3 linked regions of the Homo sapiens genome follow. The protein of the gene in region 3 purifies or fractionates together with the protein of the main gene of each other region. This does not show direct contact. Each region holds a gene or a part of one and is shown on either strand. Other genes may lie near its edges. The genes, in order: NGRN, PTCD1 and FASTKD2.

What was found.
Region 1: the proteins of FASTKD2 (region 3) and NGRN purify together in Homo sapiens (affinity purification with mass spectrometry; 3 studies listed by BioGRID and IntAct, with this or other methods). This does not show direct contact.
Region 2: the proteins of FASTKD2 (region 3) and PTCD1 purify together in Homo sapiens (affinity purification with mass spectrometry; 2 studies listed by BioGRID and IntAct, with this or other methods). This does not show direct contact.

The regions. Positions count from the first base shown.
Region 1 is NC_000015.10:90,260,589-90,269,211, reverse strand, and holds the start of NGRN (neugrin precursor), read right to left. Parts: upstream 3,541-8,623; 5' UTR 3,500-3,540; coding exon 3,336-3,499; exon of another isoform or gene 2,925-3,335; coding exon 2,814-2,924; intron 1-2,813. Other genes in the region: tubulin polyglutamylase TTLL13, read right to left, coding at 4,245-4,492, 5,154-5,265, 6,067-6,246, 6,543-6,720, 7,021-7,206. UniProt on the Homo sapiens protein: Plays an essential role in mitochondrial ribosome biogenesis.
Region 2 is NC_000007.14:99,421,500-99,429,252, forward strand, and holds part of PTCD1 (pentatricopeptide repeat-containing protein 1, mitochondrial), read right to left. Parts: intron 7,706-7,753; coding exon 7,604-7,705; intron 4,118-7,603; coding exon 3,296-4,117; intron 2,459-3,295; coding exon 2,276-2,458; intron 1-2,275. Other genes in the region: ATP5MF-PTCD1 (ATP5J2-PTCD1 fusion protein), read right to left, coding at 2,276-2,458, 3,296-4,117, 7,604-7,705. UniProt on the Homo sapiens protein: Mitochondrial protein implicated in negative regulation of leucine tRNA levels, as well as negative regulation of mitochondria-encoded proteins and COX activity. Also affects the 3'-processing of mitochondrial tRNAs.
Region 3 is NC_000002.12:206,768,431-206,776,183, reverse strand, and holds part of FASTKD2 (FAST kinase domain-containing protein 2, mitochondrial), read right to left. Parts: intron 6,094-7,753; coding exon 5,990-6,093; intron 5,003-5,989; coding exon 4,894-5,002; intron 4,291-4,893; coding exon 4,167-4,290; intron 4,004-4,166; coding exon 3,864-4,003; intron 1,960-3,863; coding exon 1,787-1,959; intron 1-1,786. UniProt on the Homo sapiens protein: Plays an important role in assembly of the mitochondrial large ribosomal subunit.

The sequences.
Region 1 (8,623 bases), on a different chromosome or scaffold from region 3:
GAACCCAACCTCTACTAAAAATCCAAAAAAAAAAAAAAAAAAAAAAAAATTAGCCAGGTATAGTGGTGTGCACCTGTAATTCCATCTACTTGGAAGGCTGAGGCACGACAATCACTTGAACCCAGGAGGCAGAGGTTGCAGTGAGCCAAGATCATGCCACTGCACTCCAGCCTGGCAGCAGAATGAGACTCCGTCTCAAAAAAAAAAAAAAAAAAAAAAGAGAGAATCAGTGTCAATCAATAAATAAATAATGGGGGGGGGGGGGTGGGAGAAAGCAGTTTCAGCTGGGTGCAGTAGCTCACACCTGTAATCCTAACACTTTGGGAGGCCAAGGCAGGCAGATCGCTTGAGCTCAGAAACTGGAGACCAGGTTGGGCAACATGGCAAAATCCTGTCTTTATTTAAAATATATATATATATTTTAATTTAAAAGGCAGTTTTTACAAGGGCAAATGCTGCTGAATTATTTAGGACGCTAAGGACTACAAAGTGTCTTTTTGAGCCTAGCACTGAGGAAGTCACTGATGGATTTAAGGAGAGCAGTTTTATTGCAGTGATACAAACAAACAAAGGGTAGGCACCCTGGGAACCAGCTGGGAACAAAAGAATGAGAGAGAGCTTTAGGTTGAGGACAGAGGTCCTTGAGTAATCTTATGCAGGGAGAAATATGACCTAAAGCATACAGAGAATTGGTCCCAGACAAGTGAAGGGCTCCCATTTCCTCTGAAATGGGAGTAGAGTATAAGTTTGAGAGTAGTGGGCAAAGAGGAAGACCAGGAAGCTGAAAGTTTTTACTTAATGGACTGTTTTTTTTTTTTCCTCTTAAAAGGACATTTATTGACCACAATAAAGGGAGATAAGTAGGAAGGTGGAAGGTTTGAAAAAGCTATTGTTGAAGACAGGAGATAGAGGCCGGCATGGTGGCTCATGCCTGTAATCCCAGCACTTTGGGAGGCCGAGGTGGGTGGATCACCTGAGGTCAGGGGTTTGAGACCAGCCTGGCCAACATGGTGAAACTCTGTCTCTACTAAAAATACAAAAATTAGCCAGGTGTGGTGGTGCACGCCTGTAATCCCAGCTACTTGGGAGGCTGAGGTCCAAGAATCTCTTGAACCTGGAGGCAGAGGCTGCAGTGAGCTGAGATTTCGCCACTGCACTCTGGCCTGGGCGACAGAGTGAGACTGCCTCAAACAAAAAACAAACAAACAAACGAAAAAAAGAGGAGCTAGACCTGACTGAGGACTCAGAAGGTGCTACAGGCTCACAAAATCTTGAGCAGCTCTACAGAATCCCCTTTATTTTAAATTTCAATTCCAGAGTCATTCTGATGGAAATGAAAAATAGTACATAATCTATGTAGGGCTACTTAGCAATATTTATCAAATTGCAAATGCATTTGTCTTTTGACCTGGCAACCTTACTTCTGGGAATGTATATAACAAATATTCCTGGCAGGTATGCAGAATGATACACATACGTAGTTATTCACTGGGGCACTATTAGTGAGCAACAGAAATGGAAACAACCCAACTAAATGCCCACAATAAAAGACAGGTTAAATAATGCATTCTGGCCAGGCATGGTGGCTTACGCCTCTAATCCCAGCACTTTGGGAGGCCGAGATGGGAAGATCAGTTGAGGCCAGAAGTTTGAGACCAGCCTGGTCATCATAGTGAGACCCCCATCTCTGTCAAATAAATAAATAGGAGAAAAAATTGTTTAAATAAAAATTAAAAACCACTGTCATATACTGCCTCATATACTGCCTCAAAAAAATATAATAACACCATCTATAAAAAAAGAATTGAGGGCCAGGCGCAGTGGCTCACTCAGGGCACAGAGCCTAGTTTTTGGTAGAGAAAAACTATTAAAAATAGTACAGCTGCACACAGTGGCTCATGCCTGTAATCCCAACACTTTAGGAGGCTGAGGTGGGATGATCGCTTGAGCCCTGGGAATTGGAGACTAGCATGGGCAACATGATGAGGCTATCTCTACAAAAAATAAACAAAATTAACCAAGCATGGTGGCATGCACCTGTAGTCCCAGCTACTTGGGAGGACGAAGTGGGAGGATGGCTTGGGCCCAGGAGGTAGAGGCTGCAGTGACCGGTGATCACATCATTGTACTCCAGCCTTGGCGACAGAGTGAGACCCCCAACTACCAAAAAAAAAAAAAAAAAGTACCCACAGGAGAGTGGGTGGGACAAATAATTCTCAATGTGTATACCATGTTATACTGTTAGGTTGAGCCATATGTAATACTTTACCTACTCAAAACAAAAAAACTTAAAAACTCTTTTAAGCTTTCCTAAATTATAGATCCTGTCTTCAGAAAAATGCACCTACCTATGGAAGCACCAGCATCCCTGTACCTTAGGTTGGGAACGTCACAACCTACATTCAAGGGTTAAATGTTGTGATGTCTGCGATTTACTATTTAAAAATTTCAGTAAAAATGAACCAACCACGTCATAACGTTAAAAACTATTAAAACCAGGCGGGGCGCAGTGGCTCATGCCTGTAATCCCAGCACTCTGAGAGGCCGAGGCGGGAGAATCACTTGAGGTCTGGAGTTCGAGGCGATAGCGAAACCCCGTCTCTTTAAAAAACAAAACAAAACACTATTAAATCTAGATAATGACAGGGTTAGGGAAGTTCGTTATATTACTCTACTTTTCTGATAATAAATTTCAACGACAAAAAGTAAACGAAAATATAAAAGCAGTATCAAAAAAGCCAAACCCGTTTCTGGGCTCCAGCATCCTTCACTTCTCATCACAGCGGATACAAACAAGGTATCCTGAGTCTCACCGTATCTGCTCCATGGCTTCCCACGTCAGGGTCCTGGGCGGGGCACCAGGCGCCTCCATTTGCCTCCGAATTTTCTGGAATCGGATTGCTTGTTTCTGTCGTTTCAGGGTGCTGGGGGAAGAGAACCAATGGCAGAAGCCATGCGTGGAAGCAGAATGGATGTTTGAAGAGCCTCAGGCTAAATCATGGAGCGCCCAGCCCTCTTCTCTTTGATCGCAAGGGCAACCGGGCCATGTTGCCGGCTTAGAGCTGCTCCGTACACCCAGAAAGCTAACACCTAGAACAATAACTGCCTGTAAGCATGCCGAACTCTCTAAACTGATGATGAAATACGTCACTAATGAAGGGACCAGTGGTCCCAGGGGAGCTGAACACCTGACGCTGCGCCCCTAACAACGGGTAAGAAGAAACAAGGGCCGCTGCGCAAGCAGCGGCAGGACACCCGGCGCCAAGGGGGCGCGGCCTGGAGCGCCGGGGCACGAGGCCCTGCTTCAAGCTGAGGGCCCGGGGAGAAGCCGGTACCTCTCCACCTCCTGCAGCTCCCGTTCCTCCGGCTCCCAGTCGGAATCGGGGTCCGGCTCCCGGCCAATAGGGCCTGGGCCCGCCACCCCCCGGGTCGCGAACCCACAGCGAGTGACGGCGGCGCAAACGCGCCCGCCCAGCAAGAGACTCAGGGTAACCGCCATGTCGACGCAAACCAGCCTTCAGCAGTCGGCTACGAAACAGCAGCGGAAGTAGCCGGGTAAGACCGGAAGTGGAAGGGGCGGGCCGGAGGCTGGGTAGTAGCAAGTTATTTCCCGCTTCACTTGGTGGGGGTAAGATCTGGGCTCACGCTGCTCAGTGGCCCACCCTTTCTGCCTGTAACTGTGGAGAGGGCTTCCCTGAAACGTGAGGGCCGAAATGAGGTACAGGACGCTCCTGGAAAACTGCATAAACTTTAATTAAAGTACGGATTCCGTTTCCAAGAGCCGTCCCTCCGCCCCAGCGGCTGCCCAGGCCTGCCTGTCTCCGCCACCTCGGTGGGCAGGGCTTCCGCTCGGCAGTCTTCTGACGGCGACAGCCCAGTGCCTTGGGCACTCGGCTTCTCTGGGAAAGGGGCTCATTGTCTCCTGGATGGCCTCCAGCCCCGGGCCGCACCTAGGGTTCAGACCCATCACCTAGCGATAAACCCAGGCTAAGGCTTGATGAGCAGAAATGAGTACATGGCTGGCCTTGGCGCCTCTTCATCTTCTAGTCTTTACCGATCCCCAATTAATCTTAGGGTATTGAGGAATTCTTGGTGTCTTTGTATTTTGCCTTATACAAATGGGGTTCCTGGGCAGGGCTTTTCAAAGTGGAACTTGGTGGCAGTCATTCATTTAGCAAAGATTTAATGCCCTTTGGAAACCTGGGGAGGTTATCCAGGAGAGGTAGAGTGCTTCCCTCCTGCTTTTACCTGAACTGATTGATGTTGAGGAGTGCTCTGGAACGCTGCAGCATGGGTGCAGACGCAGGGCAGAGGGGAACCTTGGCTGCTCTGTGTTCAGAGTTTACCATGGAGGGCAAGGTGCATTCAGTCCATGAGTCAGATGCCACTCTTTCCGGTTGCAGAAAATAGCCCTGCTTTGGGGTTAAAGTGGGTGGCACTGATCCTGCCAGGACTCGGTTTATGGCTTCTAGCCTTCTGCTGGCTTGTCCTTCTGCAGTGGAAACATGGATGTCCCTGAGTTGGTATTCACAGAAGAGATTTGTTCACCTCTTTCCCAACTGTGGCCCAATTACCAACACAGAGGAAGGGCATCTCATGCTTCCCTCCACTGTCTTTCCCACACTGTATTGTAATTGGTATGGTATGTCTTTTTGTCCATGTTCCTATTACCTCTTGAGTGCTGGGACTGTATTTCTGCCATTTCTATCACCAGGGTCTAGTGTACAGAAAGGATTAAATAGGCCTGGTGCGGTGGCTTACACCTGTAATCCTAGCACTTTGGGAGACTGATTCAGGTGGATCAGGAGTTCAAGACCAGCCTGGGCTACGTGGCAAAAACAAAATATACAAAAGTTAGCCGAGCATGGTGGTGTGTGCCTATAGTCCCAGCTACTCAGGAGGCTGAGTCAGGAGAATTACTTGAGCCCGTGAGTGGAGTTTGCAGTGAAGTGAGATCAAGCCATTGTACTTCAGCCTTGGCGACAGAGCGTGACCTTGTCTCAAAAAAAAAGGAGTAAATAAATGGGTACCCTAACTTCCCCATTCTTACACTGGTGGAAGTGCCATATTATATTTTAGGGGCATCCAAGCTCTATGCTTGCTAGTGGGATTTACATATGTCAAAATGACCAAAGCTAGTTTTGCATACTTACGGCTAGTGAGCCTGATTCTGGCACTGGAAAAATAGCACCTCCCAGCCTTCTTCATTGACAATGAACAGGAGTTGATGGCTGCCGGCTCTCCTGTCCAGTTGAAGTTCTTGGGCTGCAGATGGTACCGGGGAACATGTGGGATTGCAGCATTCATGCTTGGCAGTGCCCCTAAGATCCTGGGGATTGATTCATGGGGCAGAACTGGATGCAGGAAATGAGGAGCGCCCTGCTCTGTGGCAGCCCCTCTTAGGAGCACCAGTAGGACCAGACTCATAGATTTCAGTTCTTGACTGCCCAGCCTGTCCTAGCAAAATCTAGGCTAGAGGAGAAGAGCAGCCCCTTACCACATTTTTATGTAAGTTTGGATGGAGCGTTGGAAGAAGGAGGTAACTGAAAAAAATCTCTTCTAGGCCGCGGCCACTATTTAACCAGATACTCCTTTGGGGTTCAACAAAAACAGAAGACCCAACAGGTTTGCTACCAGCCCAGGGAATAGTGAAAGCGGCAGCTCTTTTGTTGGCCCAAATCTGTTTACTTATCTCCCATTAGAGCTGGGGCACTGGCAGTGCTAGGGAGAAAATTATACAGAAGCCACTGAGGGTGGTGGGCTTGTTATTTGTCAGTCATGAGTGTGGGGTTATTTTGGGACAGGAATATAGAGAGCAAGTTTCCTGTAAATGAGAAGGTTTGGAGCTGCAACTTGCTGGATGTCATATCTAAAACAAAGGAGCTTGGGAACAGACGCAAAAGGAATCAACAGACCCTCTCCCAAGGTCCAGCTAGCGCACTCTGCTTTCCCAGGCTCCACTGACAGATACCATCACACAAGCCTCCTTTGTTGAGACCAACACCATGTCCTGGAATGACAGCCCTTGTTCCCTTTTCCTCTGGGAGACTTCACAGGGACCCTCACCCGACTCTCATGAAGTTTTTTCTGGCCCTGGGGGCCAGGGTGCTGCAGACGGGTGAGCTGCTCTACAATACCCAGGCTTCGGATGAGAGTCTCCCTTTGTAGCAGGGCCTTCATCCGCTCCAGCTCCTCCTCTTCCACAATTTCTTGAGGCCTCATGGTGTCCAGCTGTCCCGGCAGCAGCTACAAGGTACATGAGAGATAAATGCAGGATCTCCAAGGATAAGTCCCAAACCATCACCCAGGATGGCTACAGGCCTCCTGCCCACTCTACCCTCATCCCTTCCCTGACCCAGGAAGGTTCCTTTTGCTGTCCATTCTCTCACTTCATCTTCCAAAGGATCGGATTCAATTTACTGATTAGGAACTCCTCTCTCTCTTGTGCATGGGGAGGAGAAGACAGCAGAGATTCATTCCCCTATCTAGTTGTCCCAACCCATTTTCCTGTGGAAAGATAAGAGCTACAAAACCCCTGGCACCTCTTTCTCCCAGTTGCGGTTCCTGTAAGCCAAGTGGGTGGAAAGGCTCTGGAGCCCTGCCCTGGGTCGGCTTTTCTCCCCAGCTGATTCACCCTGGTTCTGGTCCCTGGCCTTTTGCCTCTTAGTGCCCGAGGTCTCCTGCTGTTCCTGCTTAAGGCGGATCTCCTCTAGTTGCTGCCTGACAAGACACAGCAGCTTCAGACAGTAGAGAAATGGTGTTGGGGAGAAGAGGGGTGAGGAAAAATGGGGATGAGGAAAGAGCAGGAAATTACAATCTGTTCTTAGGACTGATGCGAGAGCAATGAGAGGGGAAGATAGGAAACCTACTAAACTGAAAAGAGTCACTAAGAGTCTGATAGGATTTATAGCTCCATTCCTCTTTGCTGGTGTCTGGCTTCCTCTTTCCCTGCTGGGAAGCAATGCAGCTTCAGGACTTGTCCCCACCTAGGTGTGCAGAGGAGAATGTCGGTCAAAGTACCTGGCACACTCCTCTCTGGCCTTGGAAGCAGCAGTCTCTTGGAAGAGGGAGCCATTGTGCTTGAAGAAGCGGGCATACTTCTCTGTGTCAGGCCCAGGGTAGATCCGCCGGTATTTTCCCAGGTGAGAATCCTCATATCGTTCCTGGTCCAGCATTGCCACATGGGATGACTCAGTTTTTTCTTTCCTGTGGAAAGCAAGCTCAGTGAGTCAAGAGTAGGGCTGTGGGAATGTTCAGTAGGGAAAGGAAGACTGACTAAGGTTTGGAGACCCTCCTGCTGGCTTCTTGACCTCCTGGGCCCCTGCCCAAGTAGGGAAAGCTGCCAAGCCCATCTTTGGCTAGCCCCACATGTGGGTAGCCATGAAAATAGGCTTGACTTCCAGAAATCTGATTTGCTTTTCTTTTCTTTTTTGAGACAGGGTCTTGCACTGTTGCCCATGCTGGAGTGCACTGGCACAATCTCTGCTCACTGTAACCTCTGCCTCCCAGGTTTAAGCAGTTCTCCTGCCTCAGCCTCCCAAGTAGCTGGGATTACAGGCATGCACCACCATGCCTGGCCAATTTTTGTATTTTTAGTAGAGACAGGGTTTCACCACGTTGGCAAGGCCGGACCTCAAGTGATCCACCCACCTCGGCCTCCCAAAGTGCTGGGATTATAGGTGTGAGCCACCGTACTCGGCCTGATTTTCATCTTAAGTGGAGAGGGGTCTACTCGTAAGCTAGCAGTCCATTATCATAGTTTTTTAGGTTTCTGATTGTAAAAGTAACATATGTTTTGATATTAGCTTTCCATTTGAAAAAAAAAAAAAAAGTGGCCGGGCATGGTGGCTCACGCCTGTAATGCAAGCACTTTGGGAGGCCAAGGCGGGTGGATCACTTGAGGTTGGGAATTCGAGACCAGCCTGGCCAACATAGCGAAACCCTGTTTCTACTAAAAATACAAAAATTATCTGGGCTTGGTGGCGTGTGCCTGTAGTCCCAGCTACTTGGGAGGCTGAGGCAGGAAAATTTTTTGAACCCAGGAGGTGGAAGTTGCAGTGAGCCAAGATCGTGGCACTGCACTCCAGCCTAGATGACAGAGTGAGACTAGTCTCAAAAAAAAAAAAAAGAAAACAAGAAAAAAAGGTAATATACGTTCATTACAGAAAATTTAGAAGAGCAGAAAGAAGATAAAGCCTTCCATAATCTTACTATGCAATTAGCATGTTGATTATGAGCATGAATCTGAGGCAGGACCTCTTGACTTTGAATCCTGGCTCTGCCACTCACTAGCTTGTGCGTGCATGCGTGTGTCCTTCCTTCCTTCCTTCCTTTCTTTCTCTCTTTTTTTTTTTTTTTTTTGAGACAGAGTCCTGCTCTATCGCCCAGGCTGGAGTGCAGTGGCACAATCTCAGCTCACTGCAACCTCCGCCTCCTGGGTTCAAGCGATTCTCCTGCCTCAGCCTCCTGAGTAGCTGGGATTACAGGCATGCACCACCACGCCCAGCTAATTTTTGTATTTTTAGTAGAGATGGGGTTTCACCATGTTGGCCAGGATGGTCTTGATCTCTTGACCTCCTGATCCGCCCACCTCAGCCTCCCAAAGGGCTGAGATTACAGGCCT
Region 2 (7,753 bases), on a different chromosome or scaffold from region 3:
TTTGGGAGGCTGGGGTGGGTGGATCACGAGGTCGGGAGTTCAAGACCAGCCTGGCCAAGATGGTGAAACCCCGTCTCTACTAAAAAAAAAAAAAAAACCACAAAAATTAGCCTGGTGTGGTGGCAGGCTCCTGTAATCCCAGCAACTCGGGAGGCTGAGGCAGGAAAATCACTTGAACCTGGGCGGCAGAGGTTGCAGTGAGGCCAGATCGCATCACTGCACTCCAGCCTGGGTGACAGAGTGAGACTCCATCTCATAAAAAACAAAAGGAAAATGCATCTATTGCTGGCAACACAGCAGAGGGTCCTGACTTTATAATTATGCAAAAGTGATATACATTCAGTAGAAACTAACCCCGCACAAAGTCGATCCTTACAGAGTTACATCCTGATAAAACCATTGCAAAGTTGAAAAATCCTGTGTAGAATCATCTTTAAGTCAGGGACATCTGTCTGTGACTTAAATATGATATGCTTTAGGTCTATGATAGTCTTGTGACTGTCGAGTTGAACCCCTAGTGAGCCCTACGCCAGAGGGAAGAGACAATCCACTAGGAAGATATGCACAACATGTGATCAACAAAAAACCAGTACCCAGAATATATAAAAAACCCTGGAATCAATGAGAAAAGGCTTGCAACCAACAGTTCAAAGCACAGACACAGTTCAAAAATGCCCAGCTATGCCTTCAGCCAGACACAATTTCCATTGCTGTCCCACCTATTTGTAGGAAGCCCTCAAAATGGCATTCAGGCGTGACACCTGCACGGCGTTCCTGACCCCGCACCCTCTAGCTGTGTGTGTCCCTGCCCATTTACTTGTTTCCGCCCCATCCGGGCTGTGCTTCAAGCCATAGTGGCTCTCGATGCTCCGGAGATGCTCAGCACAGAGTGTGATTCGATGGACCCAAAAGCCAAACCCCAGAGCCTGATAGCCTCAGAACAGCAGGGAGAGGCTGTGGCCGTGACAAAGCAGATTCCATGACTCTGCCCTGCTCCTGCTGATACAGGAGGTTGAAAGAAATTATTTAGGCAGATAATAAGGGCAACAGAGTCCTTGGCGAAATTTCCCTTTTAATAAAAAGCAGCCCCCAAATAATTTCTTTTCTAACAAAGAGCAGCCTGAAAAATCGAGCTGCAGACATAGATAAGCAAACTGGAAGCTTGCAGGGGTAAATGCTGGCGGCTGTGCCAACAGAAAAGGGCTACCTGGGAGCCAGATATGTTCAACGTGGGGGCCCCATCTTCCCTTCTTTGTTGCCATGTGTACAGTAAAGAACCAGGCAACATGGCGATGGCCACCTGTCTGCATAATAAAAGGTTAGGGTGGGGCACCAGCTTTTATACATGCTATGTAAATGGCACACCTGGTCCAACTAATCTTTTGCGTCCTCTGTAAATCAGACACCACCTCCCCAAGCTCATCTACAAAACCTCTGCATTACACTATGGAAGTGGCAACCCACTTCTCTGGCACCTCTCTCTGCAAGGAGAGAGCTCTTCTCTTTTTTTTTTTTTCACCACCACACCGGGCGAGAGCTCTTCTTTCTTTCGCCTATTAAACTTCAGCTCTTAACCTCTTTTTTTTTTTTTTGAGACCAAGTCTCCATCTATCGCCCAGGCTGGAGTGCAGTGGCGCGATCTTGGCTCACAACAAATCTCAGGTATTCACCCCAGACAATGACACCACTTCACTGCCTGCCCAGTCCCTGAGCAAGCGACAACCTGTTTGGAGTACCCAGCAACGTGCAGGTGCTGGGGACCCAGATGAGCACAGCAGACAGCCTCTGCCTCCAGAAGCCTGATACAGGGAAGGCCAGGGCTGCCCATGAGCACATGATCCAAGACTGTAGGACACGGCATAAAGGAACAGAGTGGGAAGGGGGAGGGGAGACTTTCATCCCAGGTCAGAGCGGCAGCCAGCTGGGCATGTCTGAGGGCCACTTAAGCAGAGACCTCCAGGAAAAGTGGGTGCCACCTGAGGCAGCGGGAACACCAATCCCGAAGCAGGCAAGAGGTTGGTGGCCTCTGCGAACTGACAGAAGGCCACTGGGACAGACAGAGAAAGCAAACGCAAGGCTGAGACATGAGATGAGCCACGCAGACAGGGACTCGCAGGCTGTGGTCTACAGACTTGGGTACTGCTCCTAAGGGAAGCTGCTGGACAGTTTCAAGCATGGCAACACAATCCCAAGGGCCAGAACCGGGGTTGGGTGGTGGGGGGAGGGGGTAGCAATGGTGAAGGAGCTGATGAGCTTTTGAGCTTGGGGCACACACCCGGTCAAAGGTGGGAGGGTACTGGGCTGCAAACTCCAGCTGGCGGATGACCACTTCGTTCACCGGGACCCTGTTCTGCTTCATGTCCTTCAAGATGCTGATGAGATAGGTGTAGTTCAGCTTCCTGATGGCCGCGTTGATGAGGGCACTGTAGATGTGAGTGTTGGGGGTCACCTGGGACTTCTAGAACACAGGGACATCGTAGAATCAAGATGATGGCAGCCATTGGGACCCAGCAGCTCCCACCCTCTGTCAATCAAGCTGGCTCCCGGGACCAGCGGCCAGGGCCAGCAAGGCAAACTTGGCAGCAACAATGTGCTGAATATCCCTCTCCAGCAGGAAAGCCAAGCCCAGCCCCTCTGCTCAGCCCTAAAGAAGCTGCGGAAAAGGACGCTCGTGCTGCTCTCAGACACCGACTGACTCAGGCAGAAAATGATGTGGGAGACACCACCTCCTTGCTCCCTGGGGTGGGCTTCCTGTGACGCACGGTCACCAGGTGGTGGTTGGCCTAGAAAAGTGCAAGCCTTGGCTGGGTGAGCCCGGTAGGGTCCAGGAAAACAGCCAGAGGATGATGGACCTGGGGACACCGACAACCCAGGACGCAGCCTCTGCTGTGGTCGGATGAAATCCACGCAGCACTTCCAATGGGGGTTAGGTGGGAGGCACAGACCTCGGGGGCTTTGAAAACTGCCCACGGCCCCTCAGGAATTCTGAGAATCCCTGCCATACCTCTAGAGTGTTGGGGCCGAGGCCTGTGCCCAGCCCTGTGTCAACCCACGGCCACCTTCTTCCGGATGGGAACATCCGTGTGTCTCTACGCCCAGCCCTGAAGCACTCACTGGGGTCTGCTTCCCCCAAAATGGGACCAAAGACCAGAAGGTCATTGACCCCACTCTCTTTGCCCCATGCACAGTTCATCCTCTCCAGGTGGGGGGTCTGCAGACCCCTCAAACTTTCCTCCTGAGCTGCAGAGTGCTCCTGAGCACCATGGGTGTCCTGCCCAGGCCCGAGTCCACTCACCTTCATGTCTGTGAGAAGCTGTAGACCGTCCTTCGGCCTGTGGCACCCGATGGCCAGGTTGCAGAATGTCTGCAGGTTGGGGACGAGGCCCCTCTTTGCCAGGACCGGCAACAGCGCCTTGGCCCCCTCCAGGTCTCCCAGCTTGCTCTTCTTTCTCACCAGCGTGTTAAAGAATGTCAGGTCGGCCTCTACCTGGTGCTCATCCAGGAGGGCCAGCAGCAAGGACTCTGCAGGACTCCCGGACTCCACCACCTCGGCCAGTAGCGTGAGGGTCCTGATGTCGGGCTGCTGCCTGTGCTCTGCCATCTTGCTCAGGAAGCCCTCCAGGCCCCCTATCAAGGCCAGCCGGTCAGCTGGGGTGGTCACCGTTCCAAAGGAGACCACTGTAGGGGGAACGGCCCCGGGGGTCAGGAGGTTGACTTCCAGCTCCACGGGAGGTGGCTTCAGGGCCACTGCGGTGAGGGCTGCTGTGTGGCTGGGCTCTGCCTTAGTATCCACCTCTGGTTGGGCCTTGCCGGGCACTCTGGCTTCCGGAGGCTCTGGAGGCCCAAGTGCCTGAGAAGGTTCCAGAAACAGCTGCCTCTCCAGGGCCTCCACATGCAGCATGGCTGACATGAGGTTGCCTGCCTTGGCCTGGGCTGTCCTCCTTGGCCGCTGCCTGCTCACTGGGGGCTGAAGCACAGTCGCCTCCTCCCTGGGCTTCAGAAGCAGCTCTGAGGCCACCTGGGGGTCCCCTAGGCCACAGTCCCGAGCTGCCACCAACAGCAGGTTGTAGCTGTCCCGGCTCGGCTGTAGCCCTAGACTCAGCATCAGCCGCCACACCTGCCACGGAAGAGACAAACGTCAGCTGGGTGCTCCCATTCAGCAGCTGGGCGCAGGGCTCACGCCTGGAATCCCAGCACCTTGGGAGTTTTAGATGGGAGGATCCCTTGAGATCAGGAGTTCGAGACAAGACCGGGCAACATAGCAAGACCCTGCCTCAAAAAAATACGCCAGGCGCGGTGGCTCACGCCTGTAATCCCAACACTTTAGGAAGCTAAGGCAGGCAGACTCCTTGAGATCAGGAGTTCGAGACCAGCCCGACCAACATGGTGAAACCCCATCTCTACTAAAAATACAAAAATTATTGGGTGTGGTATTGCATGCCCACAGTCCCAGCTACTCAGGAGGCTGAAGTGGGAGAATCACTTGAACCCAGAGATCGAGGTTGCAGTGAGCCGTGATCATGCCACAGCACTCCAGCCTGGGTGACAGAGCGAGAGTGTCTCAAAACAACTGTAAAACATTTAAAAAATTGGCCGGGCCTCTCCCTCTCCCTCTCCCTCTCCCCCTCCCTCTCCCCATGGTCTCCCTCTCCCTCTCCCTCTCCCTCTCCCCACGGTCTCCCTCTCCCTCTCCCCACGGTCTCCCTCTCCCTCTTTCCACAGTCTCCCTCTGATGCCCAGCTGAAGCTGGACTGTAACTGCTGCCATCTCGGCTCACTGCAACCTCCCTGCCTGATTCTCCTGCCTCAGCCTGCCGAGTACCTGCGATTGCAGGCGCGCGCCACCACGCCTGACTGGTTTTTGTATTATTTTGGTGGAGACGGGGTTTCGCTGTGTTGGCCAGGCTGGTCTCCAGCTCCTAACCGCGAGTGATCCACCAACCTCGGCCTCCCGAGGTGCCGGGATTGCAGACGGAGTCTCGTTCACTCAGTGCTCAATGGTGCCCAGGCTGGAGTGCAGTGGCGTGATCTCGGCTCGCTACAACCTCCACCTCCCAGCCGCCTGCCTTGGCCTCCCAAAGTGCCAAGACGGCCGCCACCCCGTCTGGGAAGTGAGGAGCGTCTCTGCCTGGCCGCCCATCGTCTGGGATGTGAGGAGCCCCTCTGCCTGGCTGCCCAGTCTGGAAAGTGAGGAGCGTCTCTGCCCAGCCGCCATCCCATCTAGGAAGTGAGGAGCGCCTCTTCCCGGCCGCCATCCCATCTAGGAAGTGAGGAGCATCTCTGCCCGGCCGCCCATCGTCTGAGATGTGGGGAGCGCCTCTGCCCCGCCGCCCCGTCTGGGATGTGAGGAGCGCCTCTGCCCGGCCGCGACCCCGTCTGGGAGGTGAGGAGCGTCTCTGCCCGGCCGCCCCGTCTGAGAAATGAGGAGACCCTCTGCCTGGCAACCGCCCCATCTGAGAAGTGAGGAGCCCCTCCGCCTGGCAGCCGCCCCGTCTGAGAAGTGAGGAGCCCCTCCGCCCGGGAGTCACCCTGTCTGGGAAGTGAGGAGCGTCTCCGCCCGGCAGCCACCCCGTCCGGGAGGGAGGTGGGGGTCAGCCCCCGCCAGGCCAGCCGCCCCGTCCGGGAGGGAGGTGGGGGTCAGCCCCCCACCCGGCCAGCCGCCCCGTCCGGGAGGGAGGTGGGGGTGGTCAGCCCCCTGCCCGGCCAGCCGCCCCGTCCGGGAGGTGAGGGGCACCTCTGCCCGGCTGCCCCTACTGGGAAGTGAGGAGCCCCTCTGCCCGGCTAGCACCCCGTCCAGGAGGGAGGTGGGGGGGTCAGCCCCCCGCCCGGCCAGCCGCCCCGTCCGGGAGGGAGGTGGGGGGTCAGCCCCCCGCCCGGCCAGCCGCCCCGTCCGGGAGGTGAGGGGCGCCTCTGCCCGGCCGCCCCTACTGGGAAGTGAGGAGCCCCTCTGCCAGGCCAGCCGCCCCGTCCGGGAGGGAGGTGGGGGGGGTCAGCCCCCCGCCCAGCCAGCCGCCCCGTCCGGGAGGTGAGCGGCGCCTCTGCCCGGCCGCCCCTGCTGGGAAGTGAGGAGCCCCTCTGCCCGGCCACCACCCCGTCTGGGAGGTGTGCCCAGCGGCTCATTGAGAACGGGCCATGATGACAGTGGCGGTTTTGTGGAATAGAAAGGGGGGAAAGGTGGGGAAAAGATTGAGAAATCGGATGGTTGCCGTGTCTGTGTAGAAAGAAGTAGACATGGGAGACTTTTCATTTTGTTCTGTACTAAGAAAAATTCTTCTGCCTTGGGATCCTGTTGATCTGTGACCTTACCCCCAACCCTGTGCTCTCTGAAACATGTGCTGTGTCCACTCAGGGTTAAATGGATTAAGGGTGGTGCAAGATGTGCTTTGTTAAACAGATGCTTGAAGGCAGCATGCTCCTTAAGAGTCATCACCACTCCCTAATCTCAAGTACCCAGGGGCACAAACACTGCAGAAGGCCGCAGGGTCGTCTGCCTAGGAAAACCAGAGACCTTTGTTCACTTGTTTATCTGCTGACCTTCCCTCCACTATTGTCCTATGACCCTGCCAAATCTCCCTCTGCAAGAAACACCCAAGAATGATCAATAAAAAAAAAAAAAAAATTGGCCGGGCGCGGTGGCTCACGCCTGTAATACTAGCATTTTGGGAGAGCAAGGCGCCGGATCACGAGGTAGGAGAGCGAGACCATCCAGGCTAACATGGTGAAACTCTGTCTCTACTAAAAATACAAAAACAAAATTAGCTGGGCATGGTGGTGGGCGCCTATAGTCCCAGCTACTCAGGAGGCTGAGACGGGAGAATGGTGTGAACCCAGGAGGTGGAGCTTGCAGTGAGCCGAGATCATGCCACTGTACTCCAGCCTGGGCGACAGAGCAAGACTCCATCTCAAAAAAAAAAAAAAAAAATTAAAAACATTAAAAAGAAAAAGAAAAAAAAAGCTCTCCAGCGGGGAGCTGTGGTTCACACCTGTAATCCCAGCACTTTGGGAGGCCCAGGCGGGCAGATCACATGAGGCCAGGAGTTCAAGACCAGCCTGGTCAACATGGTGAAACCCCGTCTCTACTAAAAATACAAAATTAGCTGGGCGTGGTGGCGGGCGCCTGTAATCTCAACTACTCGGGAGGCTGAGGCAGGAGTATCGCGTGAACCTGGGAGGCGGAGGTTGCAGTGAGCCAAGATCGCTCACTCCAGCCTGGGCAAGAGTGAGACTCCATCTCAAAATAAATGAATGAATGAATGAATGAATGACTCCTGGGTTGCACCTGCAGAAGTGCTAATGGGGGTGTGGGAGGGTTGAACAAGTCCCCAGGTGAGTGTGTGGCAGGCTTTCAAGGAAGGTGAGTTTAGAGGGGCTAAGCCGACTGCAAAGCAGGGTGGGAGGGGCGGGGGCCACCCTCATTCCATCTCCAAGGGCCTCCTCTCCCTGCCATCTGTAGAATGGAGGCTACAGTGGCTGCTGGGTTTTCAGAAAAGAGCACAGATATAAAAATACTCAGCACAGGGCCATCGTGGGTGCTCACAGGATCACCATTTTGCACCTCTGGCACCGGGGAAGCAGGGCAGGAAGGTGGGGTGGGAGGGACATACCTGGAGGGCGTACCGGAAGCCTGTCTTCTTGTCTTGGATGCAGCCCATGAGCAGGAAACTGAAGGTCTCCTCTGTGACCACGTGCCCTTTGTGGATGATTTCCTGGGGGAGGGAACAAAGACGTCCCACTGAGAACCTGCAGCAGGCTGG
Region 3 (7,753 bases):
TTCTTGTCAGGATTGCTTTTTCTGCATCCCATAATATATATATTATATATATATTTGTAGTATGTTTACACATTATAACATACTGTAACTGAATAGCAAAAATAATAATATGATTTAAAAATAGGCAAAGGACTTAAATATTTCTCCAAAGAAGACATACAAATGGCCAACAGGTATGTGAAAACATGGTCAACATCACTAATCATCAGGGAAATGCAAATCAAAACCACAATGAGATATCACTTTACATCTGTTAGGACGGCCATTATCAAAAAAACAAAACAAAACAAAATCTAACAAGTGTTGGAGAAGATGTGGAGAAATTGGAACCCTTGCACAATGTTGATAGGACTACAAAATGGTGCATGGAAAACAGTATGAAGCTTCCTTGAAAAATGTAAAAGTAGAACTACTACCTAGTAAAGAAAAGCCCAGGACCAAACTGCTTCACTGCTGAATTCTACCAAACATTTAAGGAAGAACTAATACTAATCCTACTCAAACTATTCCAAAAAGCAGAGAAGGAGGGAATACTTCCAAACTCATTCTACAAGTCCAGTATTACCCTGATACCAAAATCAGACAAAGACACATCAAAAAAAACAAAAAACAAACAAAAAAACTACAGCACAGTATCTCTGATGAAGATTGATGCAAAAATCCTCAAAAAAAATACTAGCAAACCAAATTCAACAATACATTAGAAAGATTATTCATTATGACCAAGCAGGATTTATCCCTGGGATGCCAGGATGGTTCAACATATGCAAATCAATCAATATGATACATCATATCAACAGAATAAAGGATAAAAACCATATGATCATTTCAACTGATGCTAAAAAAAAAAAAGGCATTTGGTAAAAGTAGAACCCTTAGTAAAAGCAGAATCCCTGTATGATCCAGGGATCTCACTTGTGGATATATTTCAATTCATAAGAATTGAAATGAGAATCTCAAAGAGACATCTGCACTCCCATGTTAAGTGCAGCATTGTTTGCAATAGCCAAGATAGGGAAACAACCTAAACATCCATCAGCAGATGAATGGATAAAGAAAATGTGATATATACATATAATGGAATATTATTCAGCCTTAGAAGGAAATCTCATCACATGCTACAATGTGGATCAACTTGAAGGGCATTATGCTAACTGAAATAAGCTAGTCATAGAAGGACAAATACCGCATGACTCCACTTATATAAAGTATCTAAAAAGGTCAGTCATAGAAACAGAGATTACAATGTTGATTGTCAGGGGTGAGGAAAGGGGGAAATAGGGGAGTTGCTATTCAACAGGTATAAAGTTTCAGTTATGCAAGATGATTAAGTCCTAGAGATCCACTGTACAATATTGTTAACTATATCATTAATAATAAAGTCAGCAATATTGTACTGCACACTTTAAAATTTACTAAATGTTCTTACCATAATAAAAAAAGTCAAATTTTTTAAAAGACAGATTTCTCCATTTTTTAATACAGTTAAAATAAACTATGAACTTAGGAGCTACGAGGATAAGCTGGGAGGGTTTGAAATCAAACTCCTATAATGAATTAACTAATACATTATAAAGAACAAAGAAACAAACAAGACAAAGGGCAGCAAATATAAAACAAAATTTTGTTTAACCTTATAAATGAGTAAGGAACACTATGTTTTATTTATTGGCATGGATGATGACTATGGGTGTGTTCACTTGTAATAATTCATTAAGCTTATGATTTATAACCTTTTTTGTAAGTTATATGGCAATAAAAAAGGTAAAAAAAAACAAGTACATACTCTTTGTTCTGGCATTTGTAGACATGATTGAGAGAAGAGTAAGTATGAAGAATAGATAGAATGTTTTTCATGTTTAGGGATTCAGGATCCTCTACTATTCTCTTCATAAACAGGTCCATTAAACCAACAGGTCGAAAGCCAAGGTTTTCAAATAAAATGAGGATAAAAAGAACCTTAAAAAGAGAAAATTGAGGGAAAACTCTATAATAATTACAGTATGCTAATAGTAATTTTTTAGATCTCAAAAAATCTAAGCAGCAATTCAACTGTCCTGATCAACAGAATATATCCTGAAACAGAATATTTCCATGAAAAGGAACAATCATCTTTCTCTCACAAAATCTGTTCTATTAATTCTTGAATTGGGTATCAAGTTAATAAGCAATCTTTTTTAAGCTGAGAACCAGGGCATACAATGATTTCTACGTTTCCATCTGATTTAAAAATAAATCTCTTCCTACATGCTTTTCATACAACATATCTGAAAATTACTTTTAAATATGCCTTTTCTGAAGGTTTTCAAAATGACCAACTCAATCTTGAACTTCTCGCATTCCCAAACTTAAATACTTCCTAGATTCTAACATGTAAGACATAACCCCAAAATTTCTATATTTAATATTCATACCTATAAGTGAAAATGGAACTGAAACATTATGATTAAAATAAACTTTCAAGTTCACCTCCAATTTCCTTCTCAATCTTTCTTACTTAGGATTATTACTTCTCTTTCTATAACCAATTTCCACAGTAAACTCAATATTTACCTTACTCTCCAAAATAAACTGAACCTAGAGATCTAACAGTTATCACCTATTTCATTGCAAAAAGAAGTTTTTACCAGGTGCTTCATTAAATGTTTATATTCTTAACACAGCTCCTGATTTTAAAGGCTTTTACTCTGGATAAAACAATGGACATGACCATTAAGTAGTGACATTTTATTCTTCAAAAACCCCAAGCCTGTCACATCACCCATCTTTATTATTTGAAATCTAACAAGAACAAAGTATAAACACGGAAATCATGCTAAATATCTAACAAAAGTACCATACAACCCTTTTTTTTTTTTTTTTTTTTTGAGACAGAGTTTTGATCTTTATTGCCCAGGCTGGAGTACAGTGGCACAATCTCAGCTTACTGCAACCTCCACCTCCCAGGTTCAAGTGGTCCTCCTGCCTCAGCCCCCCTAGTAGCTGGGATTACAGGGACACGTCACCATGCCCGGCTACTTTTTGTATTTTTAGTAGAGATGGGGTTTCACCATGTTGGCCAGGCTGGTCTTGAACTCCTGACCTCAGGTGATCCACCCACCTTGGCCTCCCAAAGTGCTGGGATTACAGGCGTGAGCCACCGCGCCCAGCCCATACAACCCTTTTAAAACGAAAAAGAAGAGCAAATTTTTGTTTCAAATAGAAAGATGACCAAAGGATAGAATAGTATACAGATTGTCCTTGACTTACGGTGGGGTATATCCCAACAAACTCACCATAAATTGAAAATATTTTAAGTCAAAATGCATTTAATACATCCAACTTACTGAACATCATAGCTTAGCCTAGCCTACTTTAAACACGCTTAGAACACTTACATTCACCTATAGTTGGGCAAAATGAGTTAACAAAAAGCCTATATTATAATAAAAGTGTTGAATATCTCAAGTAATTTATTGAATACAATATGCATTGTTTACCCTCATGATTGCACAGCTGATTGGGAGCTGCGACTTGCTGCCACTGCTCAGCATGAAAAGAGAGCATCATACAACATATCACTAACCCAGCAAAACAACAAAATTCAAAATTCAAAGTATGGTTTCTACTGAATGCGTATTGCTTTTGCAACATCAAACAGTCAAAAAATATTAAGTCAAGCCATCCTAAGTTGGGGACTATTCATATTAGCAAGTAGCCCCCAGACAGGAATAATAAGGAGCTAATTTTTCAAAAGTCAATTCAGCATTGGAATATTTTGGTATCTTAACTACTATAAAGGTGAAAGAGAAATACTTAAAATGCTACATGAATTAGTGTTTTAAAAGTTTGTGAGGCTTATTCTAAATTGTTAATGTACTCACTTTTCTGAACTTCCAGATGTCGAAAGTTGCAGCCACATAATCTGCAAGTCCCTTGAAGAGATCCAAATTATGGTACTGGAGGTCTTTGCAGGACTGCAATATGTTGATCATTATTCTTAAAGGACACCCATGGATATTATCTTGAAGAATGAGTTAAATAAACAAACAAAAATTACCTGATTGTTTTGAATACAACATGCTTTATTCTTTTTTCATATAAAAGCAAAGTTTTTAAAACAAAACAAAAATAGTCTAAAACAGAAGCTCAGGTATTGCAAATGATGAAAGAAAAATTCCTCTTACCTAGGACCACCTTACTGCATTCATCCAGGAGTATAAGAGATCGGTGATTCATGGCAGCTAGTACTTCAAACATGTGTTGGCTATTCAAAACAGAAAATCTGTCTAATTCCCTCAAGGCTTTCATCTAAAGAAAAAACAAATTTTAATTTAATTTACTATCTGTGACAAAATAAATTAAACTTTTATTTTTATTGAGACAGGGTCTTGTGCTGTCACCCAGGTTGGAGCCTCAACCTCCCAGGCTCAAGTGATCCTCCTGCCTCAGCCGCCCATGTAGCTGGGATTACAGGCATGCACCACCTACAGGCATGTACCACCACGCCTGGCTAATTCTTTGATTTTTTTTTTTTTTTTTTTTTTTTTTGCAGAGACAGGGTCTTGCTCAGTCACCCAGGCTGGTCTCAAACTCCTGGGATCAAGAGATCTCCCTGCCCTTGACATCCCAAAGTGCTGGGATTACAGGTGTGAGCCACCATGTCTGGCCTAAACATTTATTTTTAAACAAAAAGGATGAAGTTTGGGTAATATGACCCAGACAGATAAATAAATATACATGTATATATATACAGATAAATAAATATAAGGGTACTTCTATTCATTCACTTTAGTGAAGCTAAACCTAAAAGCCCAGCAATGTCCTCCTAGAAAATTGACTTCAGGCAGTGATAGCAGGTTATAAGAAAGATTTTTTCAAATCTCATCCACTAGAGAAAATTCATGTGTTTACCTCCAGTTTCCTCTTAAGAGCAATCGGTGCATCTTTTCCAATACACTTCATCACAACTTGTAATGTGAAGACATCTTCTATTTTCCAAACTTGCTGATCAACTAGTATTCTGTTATCAAACACAATAAATATTAAAATCATAGAATCTTCAAAGCAGAAGAAAAATCTTAAAATTTCATTTGGTCCAGCCCCTTCTTACAGGCAAGGATTATGAAGCCCAGAGAAATGATCTACCTGCTTGAGAGAGTGTAAGTAGTTAAAGATCGAGACCCAATCTATTAATAGTGCTATTTTCTCTCACATTATTGTGCTGTCTTTACTAAAGAACAAATTATGTCAGGAGATTATAGTAACATATCCTATGCATAGTCAATGTCAAAGGGAGTTAAGTTTTACTCTCACTAATCTATGACATTAGATCATTTATATCAATTTTATAAATCCCTTTTCAAGCTGGGTCAACGTCAACCCTCACATAGTCCCCGAATAACTATTCTGAATTAAATATACATATCAATTCTCTCCTACCCCGCATCAGTACTATTTTTTTTTTTTTTTTTTGAGACAGAGTCTCGCTCTGTTGCCCAGGCTGGAGTGCAGTGGCGCGATCTCAGCTCACTGCAAGCTCTGCCTCCTGGGTTCACGCCATTCTCCTGCCTCAGCCTCCCAAGCAGCTGGGACTACAGGCACCCACCACCACACCCGGCTAATTTTTGTATTTTTAGTAGAGACGGGCTTTCACCATGGTCTCGATCTCCCGACCTCGTGATCCGCCTGCCTCGGCCTCCCAAAGTGCTGGGATTACAGGCATGAGTCACTGCGCCTGGCCAGTACTATGTTTTAAAATAAATTAATTTAGATTTCAATGTTACTCACATCTTTGTTATTATGGACCCTAAGAGAAGTATTTCCAGCCTATGTCATCCAGAGTCAGGATTTTAAGCTTAATAAGGTATGAAAGACTGTAACTACCAACAAAGCCTCCCCAACCCCTCCTCCCCTCAAGAAAGGAGTTTAGTTTTCATCTCAATTTTTTTATTCCAGATATATGAGGAACAAAGAAAACCACATGAAGAAAGCATAAGAGAGTTCTCACCTGAATCCCGTTCGTAGAACATGAACATTCTTGCATGGTTCCATTGCCTCTAAAACAGTTGACAAAACTGAAAGGCATATCTCATCACACTCATTGATACGTTCCTATTGAAATATAATTACAAAAACACTACAGGTGATGAGCCCATAGTAAACTATCTTACCCAAGCAAAACCACTGAACTGATGTACTGAATAAAACGATTGAGTATCAAACCAACAATTCCTACAGTCAGTCCACAATAAACAGCATCTTTGGGAAATAAAAAGTCATACTTACTGAATTTTCCAGCTGACTGATACACATCCTTTTATGCATCAACACTTTTTTACCTTCACCATTATCACTGAAAACACATTTGATATTTATTATATTCCACTGCTTCTGAAACAACTTTTATTAAACATTATTTTTACCTCTTCTTGGAATTCAAGGTCATTACAAAGGCAAAAACAGTTAAAGTGCAGGAATATAAGAACTACTGAAGTACAGAAGGTAACTAGCCCATCTCTAAAGATCCTTAAATGGTTGTGCCTTTACAATTTCCCTAGATCCTTTCCTGGGTATCAAGCTGAAACTTTACTTGTGAGTCTTCTGATTCACATCTCCTGCCACATTCTACCACTGCTATCTGGGTCTCAAGGGAAGCCTACACCCCACAGATTCTTCTTTCAGGTCCCTTTACTTAGGGTACTAAGTTTGATTCCAGAAATAGTGGGCATAATCTGGAAAGTGAATAGTAACAACACAGCTTAACTAGCAGTACTCTACAGTTTAATCACTAGTCTATAAACCTCACAAAAAATCACATCTGAGGAAACTTAGCCTGAAGAGAGAGAAGCTCTTTTGCTAAAATTACATAACCAATGAATCACAAAGTCTTAAGTCAGAACCAGGTAATAATAAGAAATGGTTATGGTTAGAAGAAAAAAAAGGTTTCTTTCCTATGAAAGGGTTTCCTTAACAATTTTACAGCATTCCATCCATATCTACTATGAAAGAAAAGACCACTTGTCTATGTGTTTGAAGGGCAAATTCATTGATGGCACACTGTCCTTTCACCTCTAAAATGTCTTTACATTATTCCAACAGGTCAGTGAGACACCATCATCCATACAGATGTTTTGACTACAAAAATCTACTACTCATACCTCACCAACACAGATGTCATCCCGATGCAAATATCTGTCCAAAATCTAGTAAGAGCATCACTGACCAGGTAAGGTGATTTATTAGTCACTTTTAAATAACTACATAGGAACTAATACACAGCCTACAAATAAACAGGGATATTCTGTGGTTTAAACAAATACACACACATACACTAAATAAAAATTAGTTATTCCTTAAGGACATATGGAAATCACAGTAATGTAAAAAGTTAAAAACTTTCCCATAGCTATGAACCCAATTATTGAATTCTATAGCAAGACAGGATATATGCCAGATTATCCCCAAGGAATTCCTGTCTTTTAAAAAATTATTATTATTATTTTCAGACAGGGTCTGGCTCTGTCACCCAGGCTGGAGTGCAGTGGCACGATCATGGCTCACGGCAGCTTCGACCTCCCAGGCTCAAGTGATATTCCCACCTCAGCCTCCCAAGTAGCTGGGACCACAGGCAAGTACATCACACCCAGCTAATTTTTGTATTTTTTGTAGAGATGGAGTCTCCCTTTGTTGCCCAGGCTGGTCGCAAACTCCTGGGCTCAAGAGATCCTCCTGCCTTGGCCTCCCAAAGTGCTGGGATTACAGGTGTGAGCCA